Linked DNA regions of Homo sapiens. The protein of the gene in region 3 interacts with the protein of the main gene of each other region in a pairwise test. Each region holds a gene or a part of one and is shown on either strand. Other genes may lie near its edges.

Region 1 (8,768 bases), on a different chromosome or scaffold from region 3:
TGTACCAATACCATGCTATTGTAATTACTGTTGTAGCCTTGTAGTACAGTTTGAAGTTGAGTGGTGTGATGCCTCAAGCTTAGTTCTTTTTGCTTAGAATTGCTTTGGCTATTTGGGCTCCTTTTTGGTCCCAATGAATTTTAAAATGATATTTTCAAAATCTGTGAAAAATGTTGGTAGTTTTACAGGAATAGCATTGAATCTGTAAATTGCTTTGGACAGTATGGCCATTTTAAAATATTGATTCTTCTTATTCATGAGTATAGACTGTTTTTCCATTTGTTTGGGTCATCTTTGATTTTTTTTTTTAAGCAGTGTTTTGTAATTCTTGTTGTGATCATTCACATCCCTGGTTAGCCATATTCCTAGGTGTTTTAGTTTTTGTTTTTTGTGGCTATTGTGAATGGTATTGCATTCATTATTTAGCTCTCAACTTGGACATTGTTGGTGTATAGCAATGCTAGTGACTTTTGTACACCGATTTTGTGTCCTGAAACTTTGCTGAATTTGTTTATCATATCTAGGAGCCTTTGGGCAGAGACTGTAGGGTTTTCTAGGTATAGAATCATATCGTCTGCAAAGAAGGATAGTTTGACTTCCTGTCTTCCTATTTGGATACCTTTTATTTTTCTTTTGCCTGATTGCCCCAGCTAGAACTTCCAGTACTGTGTTGAATAGGAGTGGTGAGAGTGGGCATCTTTGTCTTGTTCTGTTCTCAAGGGAAATGCTTTCAGCTTTTGCCTCTTCAGTATGATGTTGGCTGTGGGTTTGTCATAGATGGCTATTATTTTGAGATGTGTTCCTTTTTGATGCCTAGTTTGTTGAGGATTTTTAACATGAAGCAAGGTCGAATTTAATCAAGAGCCTTTTCTGCATCTATTGAGATGATCATGCAGATTTTGTTTTTAGTTCTATTTATTTGATGAATCACATTTATTGATTTATGTATGTTGAACCAACCTTGCATCCCAGGAATAAAGCTTTCTTGATTGTGGTGAATTGGATTTGGTTTGCTAGTATTTTGTTAAGGATTTTTGCATGTATGTTCATCAGGGATATTGGCCTGAAGATTTTTTTTTCTGCCAAGTTTTGGTATCAGAATGATGCTGGCCTCATAGAATGAGTTAGGGAGAGTTCCTCCTCCTCTATTTTTTGAAATAGTTTCAGTAGGATTGGTACCAGCTCTTTATATGTCTGGTAGAAATCAACTGTAAATCCATCTGGCCCAGGGCTTTTTCTGGTTGGTAATTTTTTTATTACTAATTCAATTTTGAAACTTGTTATTGATCTGTTCAGGCTTTCAATTTCTTCCTGGTTCAGTCTTGGGAGGTTGTATGTTTTCAGGAATTTGGTCATTTCTTTTAGGTTTACCAGTTCGTGTCAGCACCATCTATTGAAGAGACTGTCCTTTCTCCAATGTATGTTCTTGGCACCTCTGTCGGAAATGAATTCACTGTAGGATTTATTTCTGGGTTCTCTATTCTGTTCCATTGGTCTATGTGTCTGTTTTTATGCCAGTACCATGCTGTTTTGGTTACTATATCTCTTTAGTATAATTTGAAGTCAGGTAATATGATTCCTTCAGTTTTTTTTCTTCTTGCTCAGGATGGCTTTGGCTATTCTGCATCTTTTATGGTTCCATATGAATTTTTAGGATTTTTTTTTCTATTTCTGTGAAGAATGTCATTGATATTTTGATTGGGCTTGCATTGAATCTGTAGAGTGCTTTGTGTAGTATGGACATTTTAACAATATTGATTCTTCCAGTCCATGAACATGGTTTATCTCCCCACTTTTTAATGTACTCTTCTATTTCTTACATCAATGTTTTATAGTTTTCATTGTAGAGATCTTTCACTTCTTTGGTTAAGATTATTCCTAGATATTTTATTTTATTTGTAGCTGTTGTAAATGGGATTACTTTTTTGATATCTTTTTCAGATTGTTCACTGTTGGCCTATAGAAGTGCTATATTGATTTTTGTATGTTGATTTTGTATCCTGCAACTTTATTGAATTTGTTTATATATTCTAATAGTTTTTTGGCAGAGTCTTTAGTTTTTTCCAAATATAAGATCATATCATCTGCAAACAAGGATAATTTGACCTCCTGCTTTCCAGTTTGGATGTCTTTTACTTCTTTCTCTTGTCTGATTGCTGTAGCTAGAACTTCTAGTATTATGTTGAATAACAGTAGTGTAAGTGGTCATCCTTGTCATATTCCAGTCTTAGTTCTGTTTTTTCTTCATTTCTCCCTTACTGGTGCTTCAGAACACTTCACATTTCTGTATTGGAATTCCACAAGCGTGTCTTTCTGTCCCTTCTAGATTGTAAAACTATTTGAAGGAAAGATTTTTATCTTACTGGTAGACTGTTTGGGGAGACATTGTTCACTGTATCTCACAGCGTTTTCCTCATAAAGATTTATGGGGGAAATTTCTCACAGGTCAAGGCTTGCTTTTATTTTAGGGACACAGTTTAATGTATGCCAGATTATATTCCCCCACTTTGCATTGGCTGCTTGGAAGCTCAGAGCCACAATTGTGTCACAGTTCTAAGCAGCGCCTTCTCAAAATCTCCACTTATATACCTAATAGTCTTTGCATTAGTCTCCTATTGCTGCTGTACCAAATTACCACAAACTTAGTGGTTTAAAACAACATAAACCTATTATCTTACAGTTTGGGGAATCAGAAGCCCAAAATTAGTTTCACTGGACTAAAGCCAAGGTGTCAGCAGGACTATGTTCCTTCTGGAGGCTTTAGAGGATAATCTATTTCCTTATCTTTCCCAGCTTCTAGAGACTTCTTACATTCCGTGTCTTCTGGCCCCTTTTTCCATCTTCAAAGCCAGGAGTGTAGCATCTTCTCTCCCCTCTGACTTCTGCATCTGTCCTTACATCTTCTTCCTCTGACTTTGATCCTCCTGCCTCCCTCTTATTTTTGCGATTGCACTGGGCTCACCAGATAACCCAGGTTAATCTCCCCATCTCAAGACCCTTAACTGAATCACATTTGAAAAGTCCCTTTTTCCCATGTGAGGTAATACACTCACAGGTTCTGGGGATTCGGAAATGGGTCTCTTTTGCAGGGGGTCCTTATTCAGCCTGCCACATTCTTTTCAGTGTTAGCTGTATGAAACTGAAATGTTTGAGTCTCCTAACCAAACTGTACCTCTGCCTACCCTTCCACCTCCCTCACCTTCCATATCTCAGTAAATGGCCCTGCCATCTAATAATTGTTCTGATCAGGCACATGGTTCTCTGCTCTCCCTCACCCCCATATCCAGTCTCTCATGTTGTTCTGTCATATAGACTTCTAAAGTGTATCTAGAACCTGTACACTTCATTTTTTGGCCACTGCCACTACCCTAGGCTAAGCCATCACCAGCTCTTGCCTGAATTGCTGTCATAGCCTCTAATTTGTTCTTTACTTCAGCTCTTGCCCTTTCCTAGTCTATTCTTCACAAATCGATTAGATTTTTTGCAAACACAAAGCCAATCATGCTGTTTTCCTACTTAATACTCTCCAATTGTTTCCTATCTCATGCTGAAGAACATTCAAATTCTTCATCATGACTTCTAAGGCCTCATGGTCTGGCCTGGCCCTCTCTCAAAGAACATCTCATTCTGCTCTCTTTACCACCACATTCTGGTCACACTGGCCTCCCTGGAGATTTCTACCTGGCTCAAGCCATGCTTCTCACATGTAATTCTTCTGCTTGGCACTCTGCCAACTCTTCCCCGACTACATCTTTGCTGAGCTTTTGGTCTCATCTGAAATGTCTCCTCCTCAAAGAAGCTGTTCTATACAACTCCATCTAACTGGAGTTCCCTACCCTGCTGTGCACAAATTTTTCTTGATCACTTCACCCTTTTAAGTAGCCTTCATAGACTTATCACTATTGATAATTACTTAGTTGTTGTTTACTTTATATCATTTATTTTCTCCATCATATTGTTAATTCTGTAAAGGCGCAGGCCATTTCTGTTTGTTCCTTGCTGTATGTGATGCTTCATAGGTATGTAGCATAGGAGATCCTGAATACATTTTCTGTCATCCTTACCCTGACTTTATCTTACCTTTTTGGGTTTGTTTTCCTTATGTTCTTGTTTTCTTACTTTGTATTGAAATGAGAGAAAAACTCACAACCCCCAGGCTCTACTCAAGGTTGGGGGCCAGAGGAGGTAGAGCTTCCTCTGCTCCTGTCTCTTCCACCCGCCATCCACTCACTCGCCATTAGTACTGTGTGTTGTGGGCAAAAGAAAAGCTTTCTACTAGTGTTTCTTCCCAGGGAATGTGGGATTCATCCTGGAATGCCAAAATAAGGATGAATTGTCTAAAGAGAAAACCAGAATGCCTTTCTGGACCAAAGATTGAAATTGCTCTGCCTAATAATGTAAACAGTTTATTTTCACTGACTGGGGGCAGAGTGTTCCTTAGCGAGATTAATATGATACTAGCTGCTTTTTTGTCTTCCTCTGGCAAAGGCTAGAGATAACAAAAATTGGGGTTCTAGACTCTAGGGAGGAAGGACAACATTCACAGCTCCATTTGTAGGAGGTGAGGAGGGCCCTTGAGAAAAGTGGGGTGTGAGCGAGTATAGGACATTCAGGAGAGAGATGATCAGTAGGGGACACCCTGGGAGAAAGAGATTCTGAGCTCTTTTCTTTTCTCCGGAGCCCTGACCCTTGAGCAGTGGCACACAGAGTGTCTTCCTTTATTCTCTGGTACAGTAGTCATGTTTCTTGGCACAGTGCCTTGGACCTTCCATACATGCTTTCTTCCCTCCAGAGCCTTCGTCTAAGATGCTGGAGAGTAGCTTATAGCCTGGGCATCAAGTTTGTCGATTCTCCCCAGGACCCTTTTCTTTATAGGTGCCACATGTCATGATTTATGCACAAACATGATTTGCCTGACAGTGCAGTCTGGGCCTGGAATAATTTTAATTAATGGGAAAATGGTCCTCAATACACCGATTAGACCTCTTCAGGTACAACAAGATAAAAGCCTGATAATTTGGATGGAGTACTCTTCTTAAATATCTACTCTGTGCACGGCAGCCAATGGGAAAGCCAGGCTCTCTCCCACCTGATCCAATGAGTAATTAAGAGAGGGCTTTTTCTTCCCTACCTCTCCCCTGCCTCCACCCCGCTCCCCAACTAAAGCTTAACAGGTTGGTGGCATAATGTGGAGACTTTTAAGGGGTGTCATCCTAGGAGCTTAGGCAAGAGCCAGGGTATCTTCTCTCCGCTCCCCAAGCACTGTTCAAGTGGGTTTGAAAAGCAGGCAAGTGAGGGAAGGAAGAAGCTAGAAGCAGGCAAGTTGGGTAACGGCTCTCGGCAAAGTTCGAGAAGTGCCTATGGCCATGAGTGAGCTGGGCACTCGGAAGCCCAGCGATGGCACTGTTTCTCATCTGCTCAATGTGGTGGAGAGTGAGCTTCAGGCAGGGAGGGAAAAAGGCGACCCTACGGAGAAGCAACTTCAGATCATCCTGGAGGATGCACCTCTCTGGCAGAGATTCAAGGAAGTCACTAATGAGATGATTGTGACCAAGAATGGCAGGTGAGTTTATCTGCCGCCCCGCGTGGGCTGGCAGGGCTTGGCAGGAGAGATGAGACCCCTTGAATATTGAAGAGGCTGCCGCTCTTCACTCAGAGGCGGCGGGATCTGATTAAACATGCTTACAGGAACGACTGTCTCCAATGGCTTTCCTCCAGCCAACTTAATTAATTTATCTGAGATCATCAGAGGATGAAGCCACCTGTCTTATGTGCATTTTAAATGGAGAAATTCTGGGGAAATTACCATAAAGTGGGGGGCATGCCCCATTGGGATGGGAAAATGGACTTAAATGTCAGAAAATAATATTAATTTGTGACTAGCTGCATACCCTATCGCAGACCTGAGCCCCAACTCCGTCCAGATAAGGTGAAAGACAACTTTATTTGGAAGCTGGATGATCTCCTCCTAAGTATAGCAAACTTGCCAGAAATGTTTGGCTAGTTGAAGATTGGAAGCAAAAGGGCAAATGTAAACTCATTGCCTATCACTTCATCTGCTTCCCCGTGTGTGTTTGTGGTGAGTGTTCATTTGAGATTGTGTGTGTTTGTGATGATATGAAAGCTGTTGCAGTAATAGTGGATGAAAACATATTATTCTGCTTTAGAGAAAAGAAGATGCCTTCTTTCTTATCAGTGCAACAAATTTAGGGATTAACTGAAACTGATCTCTGGTGGCATTTCTCAGATTCTATTAAACCTAGTCTGCTAAGGGGCTGTCCAGGTAATATTAGAAGATTTCACTTCGTAGAGGAGACGCAAATATTTTGAAACAAAATCTCACCGCTCGCAGCTTGGCCAAACTGGCTCCAACATTCAGCTGGTGTTCACATAGCTTTTCATACACATGGTCACAAAAGTACAAAATGCTGAAAGGCATTTTCAGTAGGCTTAGTTTTGGCTGAACTCTAATTATGACACCCTCGAGAGAATTCTGATAAAAGAGAAGAGCCGAGGCCATCTGAACTTCTTTCTGTCAGGCTTTTGTCCTTGTGCAAAGTGCTTCCGTTCCTGATGTCTCGGTTTTCTATATTTTAATAAAGCACAGTATAGAAAATGAACTATTTCTTGTCAATCTTGAAGAGTTATGAACTCGAGAGCTGTTACATGGCATTAAAATGCTTTCTAAAATGAAAGCCATACCTGAATTAGGGCATTTCAAGAAATTGCGATTATACCAGTAGCAGGAATATCAACCTTGCTTGATTTTTATATTTTCTTTCTCAAAATGGGTTCCACACTTATTTCATATAGATTTATTGCTTTTAATATTGTTACTGTAATTATAGTTCCTTCTCTTGACCTGTATTTACACATTATTTTTAGCTTCTTTCATAGAAGAAAACATAAAACATAGTTTTAATTTCACAGAATTACACCAAATTCTTAATTGGATTTAGTCTCTGACCCTTTAAAAATGGGCAAAGATGCAACTGTAAAAATTTTATTATATCTGATTATAGGTAGAACATTCTGCTTATTTTTCTTTGTATTATTGGATACTAATTACAGTAATACCTAGCCTTATGCTATTGATTGGGCTGTCAAATTGGCCATTTATTAAAGTAAAAATAAGTACAATTACCAAGTCAATATATGGTTCATCTATTTCAATAAGGAATAAATAATAAAAGTTTCTGAAACCATGATAAATTCCAATTTAATAATATGTTACATTGGAATGTACTTTTACCATTTAAGAAAAGTTTTATCTTGCCTTTTTATTGCCTATGTAATTTTCCCCTATATTTAAAATGTAATATTCTTCACATCAGCCCAGTGTGGTGGTGTGCTCCTGTTGTCCCAGCTACGCAGGAGGCTGAGGCAAGGGGTCCTTGAGCCCGGGATCAGTCTGGGCAACACGGTGAGACCCTGTCTTTAAAAAGCAAAATGAAATCCTTCATCTTTAACGTCATTTAATATTAGCTACATGAACAATATTCTTTGTAGAAAAAGTCTGATTGCGGTGAACTTGGCTGTTCTTATCTATGGATGTCCTGCTGTGTTTGCCGTCTTCCTATAGATGAAATCTTTTTCTTAAATTCTCCTAAGCTCTCGGAGCCCTTTAGGGTCAAGATTTTGCCAGGAGATAGAAAGTTTCCTTTATACTTTGATTAAAGAAGGGAAGACAAGTCCATAAGAAATTGATGTACTTAATAATGAATGAACTTGGTCTGAAATTACCCCCAACCTCTTAGTTTCTCAGATTAAACCATTAGTCACACTTTACCTTTGTTAATATAGACATCTTTCTTGCTTCATCTTCTTTACTCCCTTCTTCCTTCTCTCTTTTCTCCCTAACTATTTATTCCTCTATGCCTCCTTTCTACCCATTCTCCTATGTCTATAGACTCTTTGTGTCTCCTTCAAATCCTTGCCCTCCACATCAACTCCCGCACCTGGTGCAGGTAGATTTGTGGCCCTTCCCTGTGGAGAAGAATGTTCCTGGTATGATTACCCAGTCCTAGCCTTTTTCATTCATAATGTCACCTGGGCCCTTTTTCATTGACATTGTCACCTTGACTTTTTAAAAAAGCATCATTTGGGGTGGTAACTCCTATACACTTGAGGTCTCATTGTTCTGCACTAAAATAGCAAATCTTGAAATAGCGTAAGATGGGCCGATGAAAGAGTGAAAAGACTCATTGTCAAGTGGAGATCTACTTTCACATATATAAATAGGAAGCTTGCCTCTGACATTGATCAGAAGCTGTAAAGAGAAAGGCTTTTCTCTGAAAAACACGGAATTATCTCCAGAAACTGGGATCCTGATGTTGGCCTCTCTTCTTTCGTTCCTTCCTTTCTCTCTCTCTCTTCCTCCTTTTCTTTCTTTCTCTCCCCTCCCCCATTCTACTACTTCATTTCCCTTTCAGCCTTTTCTTCCTCCCTCTCTTTTTAAAATTGAAAACTTTCAGTTATTCATAGTTAATAGTCCTTTAGATATAACAGTAATAAGTATAATACCTCCTTAGAGCTCATTTGAGTCATCTCTAGTGTATCCAGCCAGTATTCCCTTTCATGTCCATCCTTTAAGCTGGAAACTTATACTTTAGTTTGCAGAAAGAATTCATTTCAGACTTCAGAGGTTAATAAATTAAATTGCTTGCTAGCATGGCAGCTCATGTCTGTGATCCCAGAACTTTGGGAGGCTGAAGTGGGAGGATTGCTTGAGCCCAGGAGTTTGAAACCAGACTGGGCAGTATAGGGAG
Region 2 (8,091 bases), about 110 Mb from region 3:
ATTAAGATGAGTAGCGAAAGTTCTTTGCCAGCAGGTACCCTGTTTTACAATTCTTTGCATCTCAAAAACTCTTTAGCATCACGCTTTGTACATCCATGTCAGTAGGAATGGACTGATTATTCTCAATGTATTCATAACCATAAAATATGCAAGAATGATTCTTCATTATTATCCTTATAGAACTTTGTTTCATTTTTTATTTATTCAAAACCTCAATTAAAAAATATCACAGATAATAAAACCAGGTGTATACTTTTGGAATTGGTAGTAAAACTAAAGGGAAGAAAAGAAGAAACATGAAAGTAAAGTCAATTTTTATCTTGGTATTGGGAATGTACAGTGTCTGCCGCTGGGGTTGCTGGTTTTCTTGGCTGGCAGGGGATGGTAAGCGTGAAGGAACTGGATAGAGAGCTGAGCTGCTAATGGACCTGCAAATTGACTGGCTTTGTCCCCAAAGCACACTTGTTAGGTGCCCTAGAGTGACGCTTCCTGACCCCTCATGTTCATCTTTAGAGATTTTTTTTTTCCATAACCATCAGCAGCAGTGGCCTTTGATGTGGAATGTTGAACTTGCCACTGAAAACAAATTACTCCATTTTTAATTGTTCCTAATTTTGACAGTGGATGATATCTGGCCCTACACAGTGATCCTGTCTGTTTAGATTTTTTTGTTTTATTATTTTTTTATTTTTGTTTTGTTTTGTTATGTTTTGAGATGGAGTCTCGCTCGGTCGCCAGGCTGGAGTGCAGTGGTGCGATCTCAGCTCACTGCAACCTCCGCCTCTCAGGTTCAAGTGATTCTCCTGCCTCAGCTTCCTGAGTAGCTGGGACTACAGGTGCGCACCACCACGCCCAGCTAATTTTTGTATTTTTAGTAAAGACAGGGTTTCACCATGTTAGCCAGGATGGTCTCAATCTCTTGACCTCCTGATCCTCCTGTCTCAGCCTCCCAAAGTGCTGGGATTACAGGTGTGAGCCACCACATCCAGCCTATTTTTTTTTGTTTTAATATATCTGTTTTAAATATTTTATCTCTTCCATTTAATTGAATAAATTTTGGGCTCATTTTATACAGTCAAACTTTTTCATCTTTCACTTTTCAGTGAGGGAAAGAAGTAGCACATGCACAAATGTGAGAGCTGTGAAGACATTACTGTAATTAACAGCCAGTTATTTCAAAACTTAGGAAAATAGAACTTGAAAATAGACACCACATTCATTCATGATTTTTAGGCCCTACTAATCATCTCTTTGTCACATAGATTAGTGTTTTCCAAACTTTGGGTTTTATATAGGGACCAGTAAAATTTAGAGAGTGACATTGCTTCATGAACCTCAAAGACATCTAAGAACAATTTTTAAAAAGAGGGTGCTATCTCATGCCCAGAGTACAGGAGAACCTTTTGAGTCAATCATAATCTAAAATAAATTCTGATAGTCCCCAGTGAGATGACTGGACATACTCTAGCTATCCTATAATAATTTGGCCAAACTGAGAACTCATTTTTTAAGTAATCATCATCAGAACAGTTTCACAATGTTTGTATGTATTAGTATGCAATCCAAGGAAGTTAAAATAAATATCACATTTATTTATATTTTTTAAATAATTCAACAAATATTTAGTAATACTATGCTAAAAGTACTGTATTAAACACTACAATAACAATAAAATGTTTTGCAAAATTACTAGTAAAATTGGGAGAAATTATGATTCCCTGATTTTCTAAGGTATACTTACTTTATATTTCTGTCTTTCATTCAGTTGTTCATATTTCCATAGAAACATAAAAATATTTTTATAAAATGTAAGTTTATGAAATAATAGCCATTAGAAATGTTTGCAAAGATAATATATAACAGAGACATGTTTAGGACTAAAATTAAAAGGCAGAAAATAAAATTGTGCTACAAATTTGCTGTTAATATAAAACACAAATACCTCTAAATTAAATGCCTTACAATTGTGGCATGGTAAAGTGTTGTTTGTTCTCTGAAGAAGAATCTAATATGTTAATAAAGTTTAAGAACTGTTAGATCTGTTAAAAAAAAACTTAATAAAACTTATATGTCAAAAATCAAACATTCAATTGAATAATTATTTGTTGATACGATTGATATTGGAAAAAAAGTAGTAGGCTTCCCTACTTTTACTAGCAGATAAAACATAAACTTTAGAGTCAGATATACTTTGATTCAAATGCCAGCATTGTTATTATGTATTATCTATGTGGCCTTGGGCAAGCCAATAACCTTTGAAATGCAATTTCCTCATTTGTAATACAGTAATTCCTATCTTCTATCATTATTGCAAGGATTAGAGATGAGTGCATGCATCTGTGTGTGTGTGTAATACTCAGTAAATAACTTCTAATTGTAGTGCAGATATTTTATATTGAGTCATTAATTTTTTATTATTAAGGATAGTGCGGTTGAAAGCATATTCACTACTATATTCATTCCTATACTTTATCTCATTTAACTCTCACAACAATCCTATAAGATATTGTATACCCACTTTACTGGTGAAAAGCTGAATAACCTTACAATAAATCACTAGCTGGAAAGCTGGTGTCACACAGCTATACATGGAAACATCAGATTCATGTTTAAAGTTGTCCAACTTTAAAGCCTATGTCCCTAACCATTAGGCTATACTGCCTTTTGATATTCTATCTTCCAAGATAAAAGCTAAGGATATTTCTTGGAAATAAAGGCAGAAACATACCTAGCTAAGAATAATTATGTCAAAAAAATTACTATTTACAAGATATACAAACTACATTTTGCTATATTTTTACCATATGTAGTTTAAATATGGAAAATTAATTTTTCTCTATGATATAAACATATCAAAAAAGTCACGTCACAAATATCAAATGGCATATCAGCACAGCAGAAAAAAATTCAAATTGTTAATGCCTTGCTGTTGGGCACATCTATGGCTCTTGGATTCAAATAAATTGCCCGAAGTCACCCCATGTTGTTACATCAACCTAAGTACTAGAGCCCCACTGTGACACAATGGACAGGGTTAATGATTCATCCCTAATCCTAAAGGCTCCTTCAAAGATTAATTGACTTTCCCTGCAGCCTGCCAGCCCACCCTCTTATAGATCCTGTCAAGAGGGTTTCTCTTCATTGCTCGGCCTCTTTTCCCCCTATCTATTTACTTTAAACACTATCTGATCTTTCCTCAACCAATACAATTCAGTAGGAATCAAATTCAGTAGAAATCAGTCAGTTAAACTGATCAAACTTTGAAATAAAGTTGACTTGGTTAGAAGGAAGGGACCCATTTTGCCTTTTTGAATCTGGCACTTTATTTATTCTTTCCAGGCCACAATAATGTTAACATTAATTGCAATCAATTAAATAAGTATTAATTGATAATCTATTATATATCGACCAACAGAAAGAATATAAAAGTGAATGAGACAAAGTTTCTGTCCTCAAAATATGTATTATCTGTTTAGAGGAGGAGATAAGTTAATTTCACATTAAGATAGGTACCAGCAAACTGCCACAGGGTGCAGAGAAGGGACCTACAATAAATCAATGGACTAAAAAAAGATCTAAAGGAAGAAGTTCAAGAGACATTCTTTCAAATGGGTAAAATTTCAACATACATATATGGGAAAAGGCATTCTCCAGGGGAAGACAGCATAAACTTAAACAGAAGACTGGCAGTTGGAGTGAATCAAAGGTTACTGGGATAATTATTTGGTGAGCACATAGACTACATGCTAGAAAGTAAGAAATAGGTGACATAGTAAAATGAACTTGGACTAAATCATGATGGACCTTGAATGTCAAGTTGAGGAAAGTTTGTTGTTAATAGTAGAAATTATGAGCCAGTGGAGGTTTTGAACATGGAAGAGATATGATTGAATCTCAACTTTAAAAGGTCAGTTTGGAAAAATTGCATGAATGGACAAGAAAGACAGAGTCAAGGCCAGGCTATGAAAGTAGCAATGAGGAGAGTCATATTCAAAAGAATTCAAAAAGTAGGACCTATGTTTTTGCAAGTGTCTAAAGCTGAGCTATCCAATAAAGCAATAAAGCCACTGGCCATATGTGGGGGTAAGCACAGGAAATGTGGCTAGTCTAAACTGAGATGTGATGTAAGTGTAAAATACACACTAGATTTCAAAAACGTAGTATGAAAAGAAGAATGTAAAATATCCGATTAATAATTTTTATATTGATTCCATAGTGAGATAATAATGTTTTGGATAAATTGGATTACATAAAACATTAAAATTAATTTCGCTTGTTCCTTTTTACTTTTTAAACGTGGCTTCCAGAAATTTTTGAATTAAATATGTGGCCACATTATACTTTCATTGATCAGTGCTGGATGTGATGTCAGGGCAGAAGGAGGCAGTGGACAAGCCAGAAAAGGAGTGGTAGAAGAGGGAAGAGGGCCTAGATAGTACTATGACAGAGAAGCTATAGAGGTAGTTTTCTGTATTTATTTTAAGAGGGCATTATCAGTTGGTTCAAATGCTAAGCAGGAGCCAAGGAAGATGAGTAACAGTAAAAACCAGCCATTGGATTTTTGCCCAGGTAGGAAATGGACTAGGTCAGAGGGATGTGATCAGTGGTAAGGGAAGCAACAGCTCAAAGGGGGAAATACTAGAGCAATCATGAAGGTTGGAACTTTTTTCTTTCTCAGCATAAAGGAGATCTGGACATGCTCATAGGCAGAAGGAAAGGAGAAACTGAAAACACAGTACGCATAGAAAATAGCTGTTGAATGAGAAACTGTACCTGGGAGTTCTCCAGAGACTGCCACAACAGAGAGGAAAATTTAAAGACATAAAGAGGGGGAATGTGTGACAGCTTAGTTTATGTTTATATTTACCTTAAGAGATGACCAAACAGGTCATCTGTGCATGTCATTTGTCTTAAAGAGAAGAGAAGGAGATATCAAGAAATTATTGTCTCAGAAAGAAAACTAGAGGAAGAACCTGAAGCATGCTAAGGCACTTCCTTCCTACTCAAAGCTCTTTACCCCCTGGTTTGGGCCTTGCTCTTTGGGAGCGTTGCATTCCTCCTCATAACACTGGTGCCTTCAGTAACAGCTTTAAGATTATGAAAATGACTCATTTAAATTATTTCAGCAGAAATAATAATACATTATTATTTTCAAATGTAAAATTTGCTTTTTAAACATTATTCTAAAATCTTTTTTTTTTTTTCAGTTCTCACAGTTGATAAAAGTCTGCTTCATCAAGAGAATACCTGGTTCTCTTTGTACTGACAAAGACAATACTTATTTTACATCTGTGTCAATCTTCATGCACAAGAGCAGAACCTGAATATGTTCACTGGTATCTTACTTTGAATGGCCTCTTGTTCCAAGCCGCCTTGTTGTTAGGAGGGGAAACTTCTGGCGAATTGTCTAAAAAGAAAGATGATTACTTTAGGCGTTAGAAAGTATATGGTCCTAATGCAAGCCACTCATAGCCAATTACTTGGGGAAAGTAAATGTTGAACTCTGAATGAACTGTGAGTGAATACTTAGTCTGGAAAAAGTAATAACTTACACATATTGATAAGCAATACATCAGCAGAGGCAGGGAGGTACTTTTTTGATTGAAGTGCTCTACTGACCTTGTCTTGATTTCTAAGGCAGATCATACCAATATCTGCTTTTGCTTGATGGTACTACCAAAGCAATTATTACTTTATTTATGTATGGAGTGAGAAGATTTGGGTCTCTTCATATAATTCCATACAGAGATTTACCCACAATTAAAAATCTATTCCCAACCCCAAAGGACATATAAAACTTTCTCTGCCTTACTGTATCTCCATTATAATGTTATAAATTTTTTGTTTTGTATGTTCCTTTCTCTAAAGTTGCTAAAATTAGGATCTGATTAAACATTTTTTAAAAAGTCTTCTACATAAAACAATTTTAACCTCAATCTTTGAAGATCCATACATGAACTTTAAAGAGCTCCATGGCAAACTATGTATGTATTAATTTCTTGGAGGCTGGCTCTACAGTTTTACCAGGTTTTCAAGGTGCTTCATGACTGCCAAACAGTTAAGAATTATTCCCATAAGGTAGACTCACAAAATGGTAATGTTAATATGGATATTAGAAGTTGTCTTATCCAAACTCCTCATTTAATAGAATGAGTAAACAGATTTTTAAAGAGATTAAGTGCTTTTCAGAAGGTCTCACAATAAATTAGTCCAGTCTAGGCTAGAACCCAGGTTACCTGATTACAATGTATAATATCACACTCTCTCTGTAAATAGATAGGTTTTTGAAATAAATAACATTATTTTTTAAATGAGAAGCTGGACTGTAGTATTCATTATTTTCTGGACAATGAGTCCCTCTACAGGTTAGAATCTGGATTTCAATTTGTGTAAGATACAATATTTGAGACCCAAGCTTCCTAAAGTTTTTCTGGGATATCCTAGGTTCTCAAACACAGCATGACATGAATCTTAAAGAACAAGGCTTTCTTAAGACATTCATATTGATTCTCAAAGTGATGTCTCTCTCTCTATATATAAGCATAATAATGTCAGTTATATAGATTCCCATCCTAACCACACAGGTTGGGTAGAAAGAAATATTTTTAAATGAGAGAATTCTAACCCATCCCATCATAAAATCTTGGGATTTGGAATGTAAACATAGAGTGAAATGGAGAATTAGGAGAAATTTTAATACATTTTAAAACCTATTAAAAACTCATATATTTGGACTAGGTAAATAGTATGGATAACCACTAACCACTAATTGCATTAGCAAGAGACTTGTCACCTCCACTTAATTTTGCTTCTTACCACAGGCCATACTATACACTTTAATGCATCCCTCTTTGAAGGCAAATGCTACTGCTTAAACAAAGCTTGCTTTAAATTCACATTAGATCTTCTAATAGTTAGGGTTCTAATATTCAAAATCAAGTTATAAACATATAGCAATTCCAAACAGAGTCCTTAAGACAATTTATGCCTGCAAAACAAATGTCTCAATATTCTCTAAGAGAACTTGCACAGATGAATTCATTTTCATGCTATCTGCCTGACATGACTTTAGTTATAAGTCACTATAGCCAATACGTGTCATTTACCTTTCCAAAGGTGGCCGCACAGGCTGGCTCTAATTTCTCTTTCCTACAGAAATCTAAGTAGTGTGCATAAAGAATGCACCGTGGTAAGCAAACTCCTTCACATACAATGTAATTCTCTTCAAGCCTAAGAAAAAGGAACAAAAATTAGGTCAAATATTTTATTTCCTTTTCCTTCAACTTTCTCATTGACTTATTACCCATTTTGAATATGGACTCTATAAATGAGGTAATGAGTAGACATAAGTAGACTTCGTTTATTCTGGATATTTTTTAAAAATCAAATTATAAGGATTAATGTTAAAAGTACAAAACCCCAGTGAAAAATCTGCTAGTACAGTTAAAATATCATGGCTAACATAAAACCATGCCTGGTCCACATCACAAATATTAGGTCTTCTATATAAACCTCATGGTTCATCATGATTTGCTCTGTGACATATAAATATGAATGGTGAAATTGAAGATGATGGGTATTTTTTAAAACATTCTTAGTACTAAAGGGCTGTCAAGCTTCAGGTTGGCAAATGCTTACATTCTCTCACTTTCATTCAAAACCTATTTCTCAGCCCTGAATAATTAGGGAAGGACAATGATGCATTTATTTGCAAAACACATGAGGATAAACTCATTTTACTTAAGTCTGAAATGACACTGATATATTTCTATTCCTATACTTTTTACTACTGTCATCAGTACTATAATTATCTAAAACATCCTATACACTTAAAAGATAATGTAATTCTCTATAGATATCTCCAAACATAACATATATACCTTCAACTTTATATTATAAAAATAACTATATAACCTTTGAAAATTTGAAGTAATTCCATTTAATTTGTAACTAAGCATAACTTATATAAATGTAATAAATACATATTTGTGTTACAACTTTCTAAACAGCAATGTAGAAATTAAACTTTTAGATTCCAATCCCAGTTTTCCTAACAGTTCAGTAGGTGATTTTGACTAAAATTTACTTATA
Region 3 (5,962 bases):
TACATTTAAATAATTTGTCTGTAAATCTCAGTGGGATACCTGAATAAAAGAGTGGGCCAACCATTAAAAATGATAATTACATGATTACAAATCTCTTATTTTCATTAAATATAGTTTGCTTTAAATTATTTCTTTATGACTATTCCAAAACAAATAGAAAAATTTTCTTTGATTCTAAAAACCACATGACTGGTAACATCCATATTATGAAAACAAATCATCCTATATGTTACTGAGTGTATGGGTTTTTTGGTGAACACAAGTCTTGTTCCAGATATTTGAATTTGATAATGTTCACAGATTCTAGAATTTTCTTTGAATGCAAATACACTTGGAAGTGACACATATACAGAGAAAACCAAACCCTCAATTTTCCTAAAAAAATCCAGACCTATAGCATTGCTAAAATAATCATAATTTAACTTTTTATATTAGGAGTACCAAAGTAAGCCAATATTTAATTCTGTGACAGAGGAGTATGAAAAAGAAAACCCAGTGGCTATGAAAACAGAGATCTAAAAATTTAATGATTTAAAAATAGCCTCTACATACAAGACGGCAAAGAGTAATACAGATTGAACATTTGGTTTTAAAAATGTGAAATGTCTCCACTTAGCGTAGATCAATCAAGTCAGCCATCTCCTAAGAAATACACATTATACAATGAAATCTACAAAGACACACTTTTTAACTTCAAGCGTTGTTGATTTTCAGCAACCCTCTTCCCACATGAACATTTCCTTGTAATGTAATGTATGACTTTTAATCTTCTTTTGGCAGAGTAGGACTTTGAGAATTATAATAGCAGTTGTTTTGAAAAGCACCTTCTATGATCATTTATTTCCACTGATTTTTTTTTAATCACTCTGAGATCATGCATTCTTGTTTTTTAAATCCTTTTCTGTTCCAATGATTTGGTTGTTTAAAACAAGCAAGCTTAATTCAGTCAGGCATATATTGCAAATAAAAACATGTTTCCAAGTAGGCTGGAATAAAAATGCTAAATAAGAACTGGGCCAAAAGATCATAGATAATGTGCTTCTTCTCTTGGTAATATGTGAATACATTTACCCATGGGGTAGAAGTATTTCACCTGCCCCATGAAGAACCTGATGGCTTGTGGTGTCTGTGCTGTGTCAATACTAACAGATGTGAGGAGACAGACTATGGAATGGACGCTGTGACTATCTGTGAGATAGTGGAAGGGGTTATACACACTGGCCACAGGAAGTTGCAAAAATTAGATGGACTCTGTGTAGCTAGCCACTCTTGAGTGTCAGGTCTGCATATGTGAGTTTTAAAGAAGGTGCAAGATAGCAATAAATTCCCTTAGAGAGCAGGATATGTCCTGGTAGCTCTATAGTTCCATGATCAAGGACCTGGCCAGTTTCCCTCAGGTAATGGGGGTAGTAGCACCAAAGTGAATATTAAGAGTCAGAAAGGCCTCTACTTGCAACTGGCGGATCAAACCATTCCCCTATTTTGGTGAACAATCATAGTCTGATACGCCTTTGTAAATCTTTGCTGCAAATATGGTTTTTACAACTCTAAAAACATCTTTTGGAAAACCTCATGACTGAACCACTCACAAATGCAGAAGATTGAACAGCCCCAGGGAGGCAATTGCTCTCCTTTTATTGTAGCTGTCTCTCAGTATTGAAACAACCCAATCCTAACTGTGGTCCTGGCCTCTAAACACACAGGTCTCTCTTCCCTCCAGCACCTGAACTATCAGAGCTTGGATCCACATATATATTCTGAAATTTGCTCCGCAAGAGGGCTTTTGGGCACTTGGCCATCATGTGTTTAAGATGGTCAGTTTTGAAAAGAGTTTTCCAAACAAGAATAAGTCATGCTATGCCTCATGATTTGGAAGGTGAACACTTGCAAATAAACTATGCTTCCCAGATTTGGGAGTGCCAGGCTCAGAATCATCACAAGGACGTGGAGAACAATATTATAACCAGCTGGTATGTTTTTAACAACAACAAAAAAAATGCAGCATTAGAAGGTGCTTACTAAGGTGCTTCGTAATTCATGGTTTTTTTTTTAATGAAATGCATCAGACAAACATCTACAAACAAACATGAATACATGGGCATACAAAAGCACGTGGACAAGTTTTCTGTACAGTTTATGTCTCAGATACTTCTATGTATACATAAGAACCACTCAGGGGGAAAAAAAAAGATTTCCCTCTCCAGCTCCCTGAATTTCTGAAAGTTGACTGACCCATAAAATGTTAAAATATTTCATTTTTATATAAAATATCTACAAAAATAGATAACATTTACAAAAACCAGACAGTATTTCCAGTTTTCCTTAGTAACCGTTAACGCAGTCCCCTTCCTCTTTTTTTTCTTCTCAGAACGTTGCCATCTCCAGCAAAGAGCGCTTGAACAGCTGGGCATTTCTAGAAAGGTCTGTCACTTGGTGCACCATTTCCTGCAGGGCCGTGGTGCTGGGGTAATGGAGGGCGGCCATCTTGGTTGCCATGACTATGGTCTTGAGCTGCTCGCAGAGCTGGTTGCTGGAGTTCATGACTTTGTTGCGAATGTCCTGGGCAGTCACCTGCCGTGTCAGCGTGTCTCCAATGAACACCAGTTTGTGTGCACTGAGGATGACAAACTTGCTGTGTGCCACGAAGATTCGCGGGGGCTGGGCTGAGCTGACACAACTGAAGAGTGCGTCAATGGCGTTGAGAAGGGAAATGAAATGGGTCTCACATTGGTCATAGTAGAAGCACAGCAACTGCCGATCCTGAGCACTCACGCCACTGTTTGTGGTGGGTAGGCTCTGAGAGGGCTTCCACTTCGAGATGTCATTCTCCACGGGCTTTGTAATCTCTTGTTCCAACAGCTGGAACTGGCTCAGCTGCAAGGAAGACGAAAGCAGATCTCATTAGAGCAAGGGAGTGTGTTGCAATGGAAATTCACTAGGCCTTGGAGTTAAAAGACAGGGATTTTAGTCGCTAGTAACTGTCAGATGCATGTGAGCTGTAAAGCCTGGGTCAAGCTGCCTTGCTTTCCTAAATTGTAAAATGTAGACGTTGGGAAAGATGATCCTCAAGCTCAGACCTTCTATGATTGGACTACTGGTCTCTTGTACCCTCTGGCTAGAAGGTAGCATAGTGTTTAAACCGCAGCCCTGTTACCTACACCTTTATGGAGGTTAAATGAGTTAACGTTTACAAAATGCTTATAATAGTTTGGTATGTAGTAGGCTCTATGTAAATGTTTATTAATGTTGAGGGGTGGCAAGGGAAAACCAAATGTAGTGACCTCCTTGTCAAGTAAGTCACTGACAGTTTGCTCCTTCTCGGAGAAAGCCTCGACTATCTCAGGATGCTCAGATGAAATGACCATTCATGACCCCTTTCTGTTTATCCTACTCTTTCTGTCAAGATTGATAGACATGTTATGATCCAGCACTACAGGAAGATTAATGCATATAAATATATGAGCACTTAAGGAAAAAAAGTTTCTAAGGCAGTCTGAATGGGAATTGTGCATCATAATATTTAGTCCCCCAGAGCTGTTAAAAGAAGGGGGTTTTACCCAGAGTCAGATGCATCAGGTGCTGGCTTTCTTCCTTCTTTCCTCATTGCTACCAAATGGTGTATTATTTAAATTGCAATTATAATAATTTCTAGGGATTCCACTAAGACTCAAGAGAGACCTCTCTTCTGCAGATAAGGACTATCTGTGACCTGAGCTTCAGACTCAGTTAATCTCCCACCTGGACGTAGGGATGAGCTGGAGCAGTGATCACCTCACCCAGCTTCCCCAGCTTCTCTGAGAGATGCACAGCCAGCTTTACTTTACTTTTCTTTTTTTTTGAGACAGAGTCTTGCTCTGTCACCCAGGCTGGAGTGCAGTGGCACGATCTTGGCTCACTGCAAGCTCCGCCTCCCAGGTTCACACCATTCTCCTGCCTCAGCCTCCCAAGTAGCTGGGACTACAGGCGCCCGCCACCATGCCTGGCTAATTTTTTGTATTTTTAGTGAGACGGGGTTTCATTGTGTTAGCCAGGATGGTCTCGATCTCCTGACCTCATGATCCGCCCGTCTCGGCCTCCCAAAGTGCTGGGATTACAGGTGTGAGCCACCGTGCCCAGCCTTCAACAGCTTTACTTTTCTAGAATCTGTTTTCTTCTTAGCGATTGCTATGGTTTCTACAAGTTCCCCAAAGCCCTGCAGTCTTACCTTGCCAGATGCCAAGGCAAACATAAATAGGTACAAGGTGATATTCCAAGGTATTTAATCATAATGGATTATATTTTATATATCTTAGGCTTTATGCAAATATGTTCATCAATATATCATGTCATTAGATGGGGGGGGTACTTTCCCATTTTATAGGGAAGTAACTGAAGCTCGGGGAGGTTACCTGACTTGACATAGTTGGTTGGCCAGAAAGGATTAGAACTCAGATTTCCTAAATATAGCATGCCATTTCATGTCATTACATGCCATTTCACTTCATTTCATCTTAAAAGGCTTGTAAATAAATCCTCAATCCATCTCTCTTTATTTGTATGCCCTTGTTCTAGCAATAGTCGTCATTATCTCCCCTACTCATACCCAGCTTTTGAATGAACATGCCCTGCCCAAAGTCCTCAGTAGATAGGCCTGGATATATGTTGAAAACATTGAATTCTGCTCTCCTACCTTTAGATTGGACCAAGGCCAGGCAAACCATAGGCTTGTGTTGCTGGCGAAAGAGAGACAAATAGCGAGGTAGAGACAGAAAGAGAGAGAGAGAGAGAGAAAGAGAAATGGCCCAATCAACGTGGCCCAATCAGACTCTTTCTTGGGAATCTGATGAACAAGAGAAGGGAGCTAACCATCGGAAGAGGAAGCCGAGATGAAAAGCCATCTATAGAAGTTCTGAGTGGCCATTTATGGGTTCTGCAAAGTTACAGGGGAGCCAAATGAGTAGATAATTAGAGAAAACCAGAAAATAGGTGAGAGTGAAGTAGACTGATAGAAAGAAGCAAAGGAACTACAAGAAGGAGAGATAATTTACAGTTCTAGTTCTCCCCAGACCTGGCTCTATCTTCACTTTCTGTTACTGAATTCCCCTACTGTGGCTTTACTATAAACCTGCTTGCTTAGGCTAGCTTGAATGGGTCTTGTTTCTTGAGACCAAATGCCTTAACCCAAATAGTCCTCATATGTTAGATATGCAGGTTTAGCCTTTAAAAAAATTGCCGTTTAGATGGAACCCAGGTACACCCAGTTGAACTAACAAGGTCATAAACCTTCTCTTTGCTTTTAAACCCCATTCCGTGCTTTGGAGCTGATTCCTGCCAGTGAGCTGGAAGAATCAAAATCATAATCTCTTGAAGTGATACCTTTCCTTAGTGCTAGGTGGGAAATCTTTCCAATGCCAAGCAGTTTTTGCTCTGATTGAACTTACCTGATGATGTTCCAGCTGCATCTTGTTCTGTTTCATGATATTCTCTTTTTCCAATAGCTCTTTCTGTTGCCTCTCAAACTCCTCCTTACCCTGTTAATTTTCAACATAAAGAACATATTATGTCATCACTGTGATTCACTTATGCTAACAATTTCATTGACGGATGAGTAAATACTCTTTATTTTCCACTGCCTTGGCAACATCTCAAATGCCCAGTGAGGCACTGTGAACCCTAGACGACAGGGGTGGCAGAAAAATAAAGCCCATTGCCATATAGGGTGCCAGCTTTCTGGGGCACCTTAAAATTTTCGGAGAGCTACTCATGATTCCCTTCAAATCTCATATATAATGTTCTTTTTATAGTCTCTGGGTTCTTTTCTCATAGATTATATGTGAACCTGTAAACCCCCAAATGCAGGTCTAAATGTGGTCCACCTCTCACTTCTAGTTCCCTCAAATCATCTATAGATTTCTGCTCCAAGGCAGTAGTTCCCACTGTGCAGGGTCAGACAACCAGTAAGATGAATGTTCAATGCCTCCAT
Region 4 (8,849 bases), on a different chromosome or scaffold from region 3:
CTGCACTCCAGCCTGGGGGACAGAGAGTGTCTCCATCTCAAAAAAAAAAAAAAAAAAAATTTGCCAGGTGTGGTGGCGCAGGTCTGTAATACCAGCTACTCGGGAGGCTGAGGCAGAAGAATTACTTAAACCCGGGAGGCAGAGGCTGCAGTGGGCCTAGATCGCGCCACTGCACTCCAGCCTGGGCAACAGAGAGAGTCTCCGTCTCAAAAAAAAAATTTGCCAGGTGTGGTGGCACAAGTCTGTAATACCAACTACTCAGGAGGCTGAGGCAGAAGAATTGCTTGAACCCAGGAGGCAGAGGTTGCAGTGGGCCTAGATCGTGCCACTGCACTCCAGCCTGGGTGACAGAGTGAGACTCCGCCTCAAAAAAAATAAAAAAAATTAAAAAAAAAATTTAAAACACAGAGAAAAATCTAGAAGGCCAGCCCTAGGTTGTCATATGGGCTACCTTGACTAGGGTACACAGCAGGGATGGGGGGTGGGGTCACTGATATGGGAGGAAAGGAGTCATCAATAAAAATAACCTATAATATTTTGGTCCCATGACTATGACATGATAAATGTGTGTAATATATATAAATATGAAAAGATGGAACAGTGGTTTTCTCAAAGTGGTAGAATTTCAGGTTGATGTTTCCTTTCTTGTTCAGACCTCTATGAATTCAAATTCTTACTAATAAGCAATGTATTATTTATATGCACATATTTATGTAGTCAGAAAAAAATTAAGCTATTTTTAATGTGTAAAAATAAATAGCTATGAAGGGGTGTCATACTGATTTAACAGAAAAAAGAAATGAAGCAAGCACTCCCTCTGCTTGAGGGTGGGGGACGCACATGGGACCTGATTGGTCCAGTACACATGAGCCCAGATGTAGACTCAGCATAAAAGGCAAAGAGAGAAACTTGTCCAAGGTCACCCAGTGAGTAAGGGCAGCATGGGAATTCAAGCCAGATGAGCCCACCCTCCTGTACCACTCCCTCCCCAGGCCCAGCCAGGGGCTCACCAAAGGTGGCTCTTGCCAGTTCTTTGCCTCAGTTTTCATTCTGGGCAGGGTGAGGGTGGGGGTGAGGGGGTTGGGAGGCGGGAGCAGGAAGGAGGAAGGAGGATGCAGGAGAAGCAGAGTCCAACTGCCCCCCTCCCCCCACCAGCTGAGGCCCTTGCTCAGGAAACCCCACCCCAGGACCGGACACCCGGGTCAGTCGTACTGAGCCACAGAGGCCGGACATCTTACCCCTCCCAGAGCACCTGGAGCTTAACAGGAAACAAAGGAATGACTCTCCCGTGGCGGAAATCCAGCTCAGCTTGCAAGGAGCTGGGGGAAGGGTGGGGACGCATGGGCACCCTGAGGTCTTGGAATCCCGTCACGCATTCATCCTGTGTCAACCATGCCAGGCCTGGGGGCCATGCTGACAAACATGCAATTTGTCGCTCGTCAGGAGAGAAGTCCTGGGGGGGGCTTGTCTTCCTTTTCACTCATGGAGCGTGGGGCTGACTGGTGGGATGTACCCAGAGCCTGGGCCAGGTCCTCCCCGCACCCCCAACCCCATCACACGGCAGCGCCAAGACAGCCTGAGTGTTTCCACAACAAATTGGGCGTCCCTGACAGCTGTCTCACTCACAGCCAGATGTACACACCCAATTCCAGATGTGGGGAGAATCGAGGGTGAGGCCAGCATCAGCGGCCCAGGGGAGAGCTGGGAATTACAACCCTCACGCCCCAGGAATTTAGATTTGGCAACTGCAAGACCCTAGGATCCAGCTTGCCACGCACAGTTTCTCATCTTAAAGCTCCCAGTCACGGCATGGTGGGGTCATTACGGCCCTTTACAGAAGTCGAAGCTGAACCTCAGAGATGTTAAGTAACATTGGCGACGTCATCCAGTTAGGAAGTGGAAGAGTGGGTACCCAGCCTGGTCCACGTGGTTCCCATGCAGTGGGCCACGCCTACTTCCATAATATGTTTGGGGAGCGGGAGAGAAAGGGGCTCACAGCTAGGCTGGGAACAGTGGGTCCCCAGATCTCCTCCATCTACATCCTGACCTTTGGCTGCCCCCGTCTGCCCAACTTTCATGTGTCCAGAGATATGAGAATGAGGTCTCCATCAGGACAGGGCTGTGGGGAGCTGGGAGGGGAGCTCCCTGCAGCAGTCGGGGAGCAGATAGGAGCATCCTAGCTCTCTGTGATTGCCCTGGACAGGAGCCCTGGACCTCCCAATGAGAAAATGACTTCCGGCAGGCAGGGATCCTCCTATCATGAAGAATATTAGGCCACCTCACACCCCCTCTTCTCCTAAATCAGGAGACTGTCCTTAAATCCAGCTCCACCTGGGACTTCCTCAGTAACCTTCAGCAAGACGCCTCTCCTCTCTGGGTCTCACCTTTCCCATCTATAAAATGGGCTGACAACGAAGCCACCACTAAAGGGCCACTGGAGATCCCACTGCAATATTGCAGGTGAGAGCGCCAATGTACAATAGCGGGGTTCAGCGGGTCACTGTAGGTTTTATCATTCATTCAGCAAATATCTACAAGGCCTTCCTTCCTCAAGCACTTCGATTCTCCGGGGCCAGTGCTTTGAACAATAGCAAAAACGAAGGGCTCCTGACCCCAGGCGTCCACCTCCTCCCGCCCTCCTAGACCTCGAGGATGCAGAGACCCTCTAGCGGCCGCTGGGTCTCCCGGGGTCCCGGTGCCTCCGGAGAGGTGCCCGGCTCCGCGGCCGCCAGGTGGCGCGCGTGCTCCCTTGATCGCCTCGTGTCCCGGAGGACTCCGAGAGCGCACCGGGGTCTCCAGCGCCCCTCCCCCGGGCTCCAGGCAGGCGGTCCCCAAGGAGCTGCGCGTTCAAGTACCAGATGGGGATTACCTGCGAGATCTTTTTGCTTCGGGGTTTCTGGTCCCACAATCGGGGAAAAAGGGGGCGATTGGGGACCCTGCCCTAGTCTCCAAGCTCTGGGAGGAGCCTCCCCCCTGTGCTTTCCGGCCTGGGCGATGTCCTAGTGTCCGCTCGGCACAGGGCCAGAGCTCGGGCGTGCGGGCCCCCGCCCCTCCCACGGGTCCGGCTCCTTAGCTCCGGCTCGGGTTCCTGCGCCGACCCCTCCCCACTCCTACCCGGGCGGAGCCCAGCCCAGCCCGGATCCGTTTCAGGACATTCGCGGCCGCAGCTAAAGATAGGAGAACAACTCACTATCGGCTAAAAATACGGCCCCCAGCCCCGGTGGGGATGCTGGGCGGCGGGGCACCCCTGGGTCTCGGGAGGGGGGCGGGGGCCCGGACACAAAATGGAGGGCAGAACGGGGAATTCGGGGTCGGGATGCGTTGCGCCCCCACGGACCGTGGCGGGCACGGGCGAGGCTGCGGGAACCCAGATGCGGGTGGGAAGCCCCATGGAGCCCTAGGAGCCCTCGAAAGGAACTGAGTGAGGTGAGAGGCAGAGCCAGGGCGCGAGCTGGGGCGGGGCGCCACAGAGATGGGCCTCTCGGGGGACCCCCGCGAAGCTGCGAAAATCCCAGCCCGAACTCACCGTGAGGCGCGCAGACGGCAGACCGGCGGACAGCAAGGTCTCAGGAGCTGGACAGCGCGGCGGCCGGACCCGACCGGCGGTGAACTTACAGAGTGCACCGCGGACCCCGCAGCCCCGCCCCGGCCCGCGGAGCCAATGCCGGGGCCGCGCCAGCCAAGCCCCTCCCCATCCCCGCCCAGGCCCCGCCCCACTCCGGGCACCGCCCGGGGCTCCCGGCGTGGGAGGTGCCGCTCCCGGGTCCAGCGGTCGCGCGCGCCCTGGAGTCCTGTCCTGGTTCTGGCGGCTGAGGGCCGGGTGGCGCAGGCGGCCTCCGGCTGTGCCCATGGGAACTAAAACCTTCGGTTCTAGAAGAGCCGGGGGAGAGGCTCCGGGAAGACCGAATTCTTCAGAAATCGCAGAGAGACCTTGGACCGGATCCTTCCCTGCAGGGCTGCGTCGGGGAAGCGCCGGCACAAGTATATTCAGCGACTTCCTTGGAAGCGCCTACGTTAGAATACTACAAACTTACAAGCTAGTTGATCAGTTTACCTCCCACTAGAAAAGACAGTATGGGAAGGCAGAGGCCGCGTGGCCTGGACCCCCGTCTTTGCTGTCAGGCTTCCAGAGTGAAGGTGGGGCTCATATTCAGACTAGTTCCTGGTCCATTCATTCTTTCAGTCAGTCAGTCAGTCATTCCTACAGGGCCAGAAACTTTTTTTTTTTTTGAGACAGAGTTTCGCTCTTGTTGCCCAGACTGCTCACCGCAACCTCCGTCTCCTGGGTTCAAGAGATTCTCCTGCCTCAGCCTCCCGAGTAGCTGGGATTACAGGCATGTGCCAGCACACCTGGCTAATTTTTGTATTCTTAGTAGAGACGGAGTTTCTCCATGTTGGCCAGGCTGGTCTCGAATTCCCGACCTCAAGTGATCTGCCCGCCTCGGCCTCCCGAAGTGCTGCAATTACAGGCGTGAGCCACCGCGCCCGGCCCAGAAACATGTTTTGAAGGGCAGGCACCGCACAGGGTGCTGGAGACAGACTGAAGGAAACTGCACCTCTCAGTGACTCAAGAGAGATTTGTTGAGTATCTACCAAGTGCCTAGCGCTGTTCTTGTCCCTGGGGATTCAGCCTCTGGATTGGGACCTGCAGCCCAGAGAAGGGAAATGGGGGAAATCCAAGTTCCCAGGTACATCATGATACCCTTCCAGGTGGGTAAGTGCTAAGAAGAGTGGGGCAGAGGAAGTGGTGGGTAGTGACGGGGTGGACAGACCTCACTTTCTAGAGGATGACAGCTATGCCAGCTCAGTGTGACCAGGATGGTTGGCTTCAATGCTGTCAGTGTGGGAAGGGCTTTTAGGGAGGCAGAGCCGGGAAGACCTCAGTGGGGGAGGCAGGATGCTGGGGGTGGGGGAAGATGCCAGACAAGCTGGGAGGTCCGGATGGGAAGAAGGGGATCATGGTAGGTAAAATAACAGCCCCCCTAAATATGTTCACATCTAGCCAGGTGCTGTGGCTCATGCCTATAATCCCAGCACTTTGGGAGGCCAAGGTGGGAGGATTGCTTGGGTCCAGGAGTTTGACACTGACACCAGCCTGAGCAACATAGTGAGACCCTGTTTCTACAACAAATAAATTAGCCGGACATGGTGGCTCAAGCCTGTAGTCCCAGGTACTCTGGAGGCTTAGGTAGGAGAATTGCTTGAACCTGGGAGGTTAAGGCTGCAGTGAGCTGTGATCACGCCACTGCACTCCAGCCTGGGCAATAGAGCAAAAACCCATGTAAAAAAAAAAAAAGAAAAGAAAAAAAGCCCACATCCGAACCTGTGTAATCTATGAATATGTTTTGTTACATGAGAAATGGAAATGAAAATTGCCAATGAGGGCTGGGCGCCGTGGCTCATGCCTGTAATCCCAGCACTTTGGGAGGTCAAGGCAGGTGGATCACGAGGTCAGGAGATCGAGACCATCCTGGCTAATATGGTGAAATCCCGTCTCTACTAAAAATACAAAAAAAAAAAAAAATTAGCCGAGCATGGTGGCAGGCACCTGCAGTCCCAGCTACTCGGGCGCCTGTAGTCCCAGCTACTCAGGAGGCTGAGGCAGGAGAATGGCATGAACCTGGGAGGCGGAGCTTGTAGTGAGCCGAGATCGCACCACTGCACTCCAGCCTGGGCGACAGAGCGAGACTCCGTCTCAAAAAAAAAAAAAAGAAAAAAAAGAAAATTGCCAATGAAATTATGGTTGCAAATCAGCTGACTTTAAAATAGCTTATGCTGAAGTATCTGGGTGGGCCAGTGTAATAACAAGGGTTTTTAAAAGTAGAAGCAGGAGACAGAGAAAGAGATGTGATAGGCCGGGCGTGGTGGCTCACGACTCACGCCTGTAATCCCAGCACTTTGGGAGGCTGAGACGGGTGGATCACAAGGTCAGGAGTTCAAGACCATCCTGGCTAACACGGTGAAACCCCGTCTCTACTAAAAATACAAAAAATTAGCTGGGTGTGGTGACACGTGCCTGTAGTCCCAGCTACTTGGGGGGCTGAGGCAGGAAAATCGCTTGAACCTGGGAGACAGAGGTTGCAGTGAGTCGAGATTGTGCCATTGCACTCTAGCTGGAGTGACACAGCGAGACTCCGTCTCAAAAAAAAAAGAGAGAGATGTGATGACTGAAGGGCCAGAGAAATGATGTGTTGCTGCCTTTGAAGATGGAGGCAGAGGCCCCAAACCAAGGAACTGCTTCAGAAGCTGGAAAATACAAGGAAACAGGTTCTACCCTATCTACCCTAGAGGCTCCAGAAGGAACACAGCCCTGCCCTCACCTCCTCACCTTGATCTTAGCTCAGTGAGACTCACACATTGGCCTTTTTTTTTTTTTTTTTTTGAGATAGAGTCTTGCTCTATTGCCCAGGCTGGAGTGCAGTGGTGCAACCTCGGCTCACTGCAACCTCCATCTCCTAGGTTCAAGCGATTCTCCTGCCTCAGCCTCCCGAGTAGCTGGGGTTACAGACGCCCGCCACCATGCCTGGCTAATTTTTGTATTTTTAGTATAGATAGGGTTTCACCATGTTGGCCAGGCTGCTCTCAAACTCCTGACCTCAAGTGATCCACCCACCTTGGCCTCCCAAAGTGCTGGGATTATAGGCATGAGCCACCTCGCTCAGCCCCATGTTGACCTTCTAACCTATAGAACTGTAAGATCACGAATTTCTGTTGTTTTAAGCCACCTATTCCATGATAATTTGTTGTAGCAGTGATAGAAAACGAATCCAAGGAGGTTCAGGTTTTAATCTTGAGTGTGCCCTCAACTCTGCAGGGAGTATTGGTCAGGTGGATTCTGCCAGGAATGGCCTGGCAGCTTGGAGGAAAACAGGCCTGGACCATTGAGTAAGTGGCAATGATGGCCCTGGGCCAAGCTGTGGTAGGGGTGAGTAAAGGGTGTGCCTCTCCCCATTCTTGCCATGGGACTTTGCCAGGCCGCCCTGTGCCCTTTACCCATTGCTTCATGTTCCTGAATTCTTTACATCCTCCTGGGGGTGCCTAGTGACGTGGCCAGAGCCTGAATCACGATCCCCATTTTACAGATGGGAACTAAAGCTCAGGGCACCGACAGTGATTTGCTGAGCCTAGAAGTGGCAAGGCATGTGGGCTCTGGCCCCTCCTTCTCTCAGGCTTCTAACCCCACAGGCATCATTCCTGCCCATCCCCAGGACACAGCTCTCAGAGAGGAGGGGCAGCTGAGTGCCTTGAGCCCCGGCCTCTGAGCCATCAGTCAGATTCTGAGCTGTCTCTGCTGCTGCTTTGCTCTGTGGCCACAGGCAAAGGACCTTCCCTTCCAGAGTCTCCTTGCCTATAATATGGGGTAGTAGCATCAGGTCAGGCAAGTCCCAAACCAGATAAGGGATGGACATGCATGTATTTTGTTCATGGGAATACGCAGCCCCTCAGGTGGCATTGTTTCACGGACACATTAGACAAGAGCTTTGGGGCCTGGCCAGCTGGCTGTGCTGCTTGATCGGAATGGCTGTAATGATGAAGCCACCTAAGCCTGCGGGAATGAGGCTCAGGCCAAGCCCTCATCCCCTGCCCATCTGCTGAGAGTCCTCCATTGGGGGGTAGCGGTCAGGGAAGGGTCAGGCACTCCATTCAGAGCTGGGGACAAAACAGAGTTACAGGGATGGAAGATGGAGAAACAAAGCCTCTCACCCAAGGCCACACACAGCTGGGGACCAACCCCGGAGCTCTTTGAAGAAGTTCTGTGGGGGGTGGGTGATTAGGGGTCCCTCGGGTAGGGATAGAGAGCAGCAGAGCCCGCAAACCTGGTCCAAGCTCCTGCTTTCCTCCCTGAGCCTTCCAACCAGGACTAGAAATGCTATCTGCACTCTGGGGACTGTTTTCAACCCACCTGGATGTGACGTGTTCCGCCCAGTGCCAGTCCCCTTGCCGCTCAATCCACTCCTGCTGTCATTCAGAGCAGGGGGCCCGACCAAGTCCACATCGCAGGAGTGATCGGCGCCTGGCCCTGGGTTCTGCGCTGTGCAAGCATGCAGGGAGGGCGCTTCCTTCTCCCCATTCACAGATGTGGTTGTCACTTGGCTGGGGCCCAGGGGATCCCTGAGGAGGTTCTGCTGAATGGACAGGATCTTTGTGTGCACACCCAGCATCGCCATGGGAGCCCTGCCATTCATAAGGCCATGTATAAAACAGGATTTCATTTACTAAACTTGGCTTTTTTGTGCAAGTTCTCAGGCTATATGTAGGGGCCTGGGGTGTGGGTAGGGAGGCTGGAATAGCCTGAGCCACGGGGAAGCGTGGCCTGCATTTTGACCCAAGACACTCAGGCCAAGCGCTGCATCCCCCAGCCTGGACCCTAGGGTCTGATGCCTCAGCCAGGGCCTGGACTGTCCTGGACAGAAGGGCTCCTGGACACCCTGCTACCTCAGGGGCAGGATCCAAAAGGGCATCTGGGGCTGGATGTGGTGGCTCACACCTGTCATCCCAGCACTTTGGGAGGCTGAGGTGGGCGGATCAACTGAGGTCAGGAGTTCGAGACCAGCCTGGTCAACATGGTGAAACCCCGTCTCTACTAAAAATACAAAAATTAGCCAGGCGTGGTGGCACACGCCTGTAGTCCCAGCTACTTGGGAGACTGAGGCAGAAGAATTGCTTGAGCCTGGGAGGCAGGGGTTGCAGTGACCAAGACTGTACCACTGCACTCTAGCCTGGGTGACACAGCAAGACTCCATCTCAAAAAAAAAAAAAAAAGGCCGGGCGCGGTGGCTCACGCCTATAATCCCAGCACCTTGGGAGGCTGAGGCAGGCCGATCACGAGGTGAGGAGATTGAGATCAT

What was found.
Region 1: the proteins of NEDD9 (region 3) and TBX19 interact in binary tests that used the Homo sapiens proteins (3 or more experiments, as listed by UniProt).
Region 2: the proteins of NEDD9 (region 3) and RFX6 interact in binary tests that used the Homo sapiens proteins (3 or more experiments, as listed by UniProt).
Region 4: the proteins of NEDD9 (region 3) and CDC42EP2 interact in binary tests that used the Homo sapiens proteins (3 or more experiments, as listed by UniProt).

The regions. Positions count from the first base shown.
Region 1 is NC_000001.11:168,275,731-168,284,498, forward strand, and holds the start of TBX19 (T-box transcription factor TBX19), read left to right. Parts: upstream 1-5,146; 5' UTR 5,147-5,360; coding exon 5,361-5,563; intron 5,564-8,768. UniProt on the Homo sapiens protein: Transcriptional regulator involved in developmental processes. Can activate POMC gene expression and repress the alpha glycoprotein subunit and thyroid-stimulating hormone beta promoters.
Region 2 is NC_000006.12:116,879,683-116,887,773, reverse strand, and holds part of RFX6 (DNA-binding protein RFX6), read right to left. Parts: intron 7,231-8,091; coding exon 7,107-7,230; intron 5,408-7,106; coding exon 5,346-5,407; intron 1-5,345. UniProt on the Homo sapiens protein: Transcription factor required to direct islet cell differentiation during endocrine pancreas development. Specifically required for the differentiation of 4 of the 5 islet cell types and for the production of insulin.
Region 3 is NC_000006.12:11,182,798-11,188,759, forward strand, and holds the end of NEDD9 (enhancer of filamentation 1), read right to left. Parts: intron 5,511-5,962; coding exon 5,421-5,510; intron 2,875-5,420; coding exon 2,365-2,874; 3' UTR 501-2,364; downstream 1-500. UniProt on the Homo sapiens protein: Scaffolding protein which plays a central coordinating role for tyrosine-kinase-based signaling related to cell adhesion. As a focal adhesion protein, plays a role in embryonic fibroblast migration.
Region 4 is NC_000011.10:65,309,632-65,318,480, reverse strand, and holds the start of CDC42EP2 (cdc42 effector protein 2), read right to left. Parts: upstream 3,616-8,849; 5' UTR 3,527-3,615; intron 1-3,526. UniProt on the Homo sapiens protein: Probably involved in the organization of the actin cytoskeleton. May act downstream of CDC42 to induce actin filament assembly leading to cell shape changes. Induces pseudopodia formation in fibroblasts in a CDC42-dependent manner.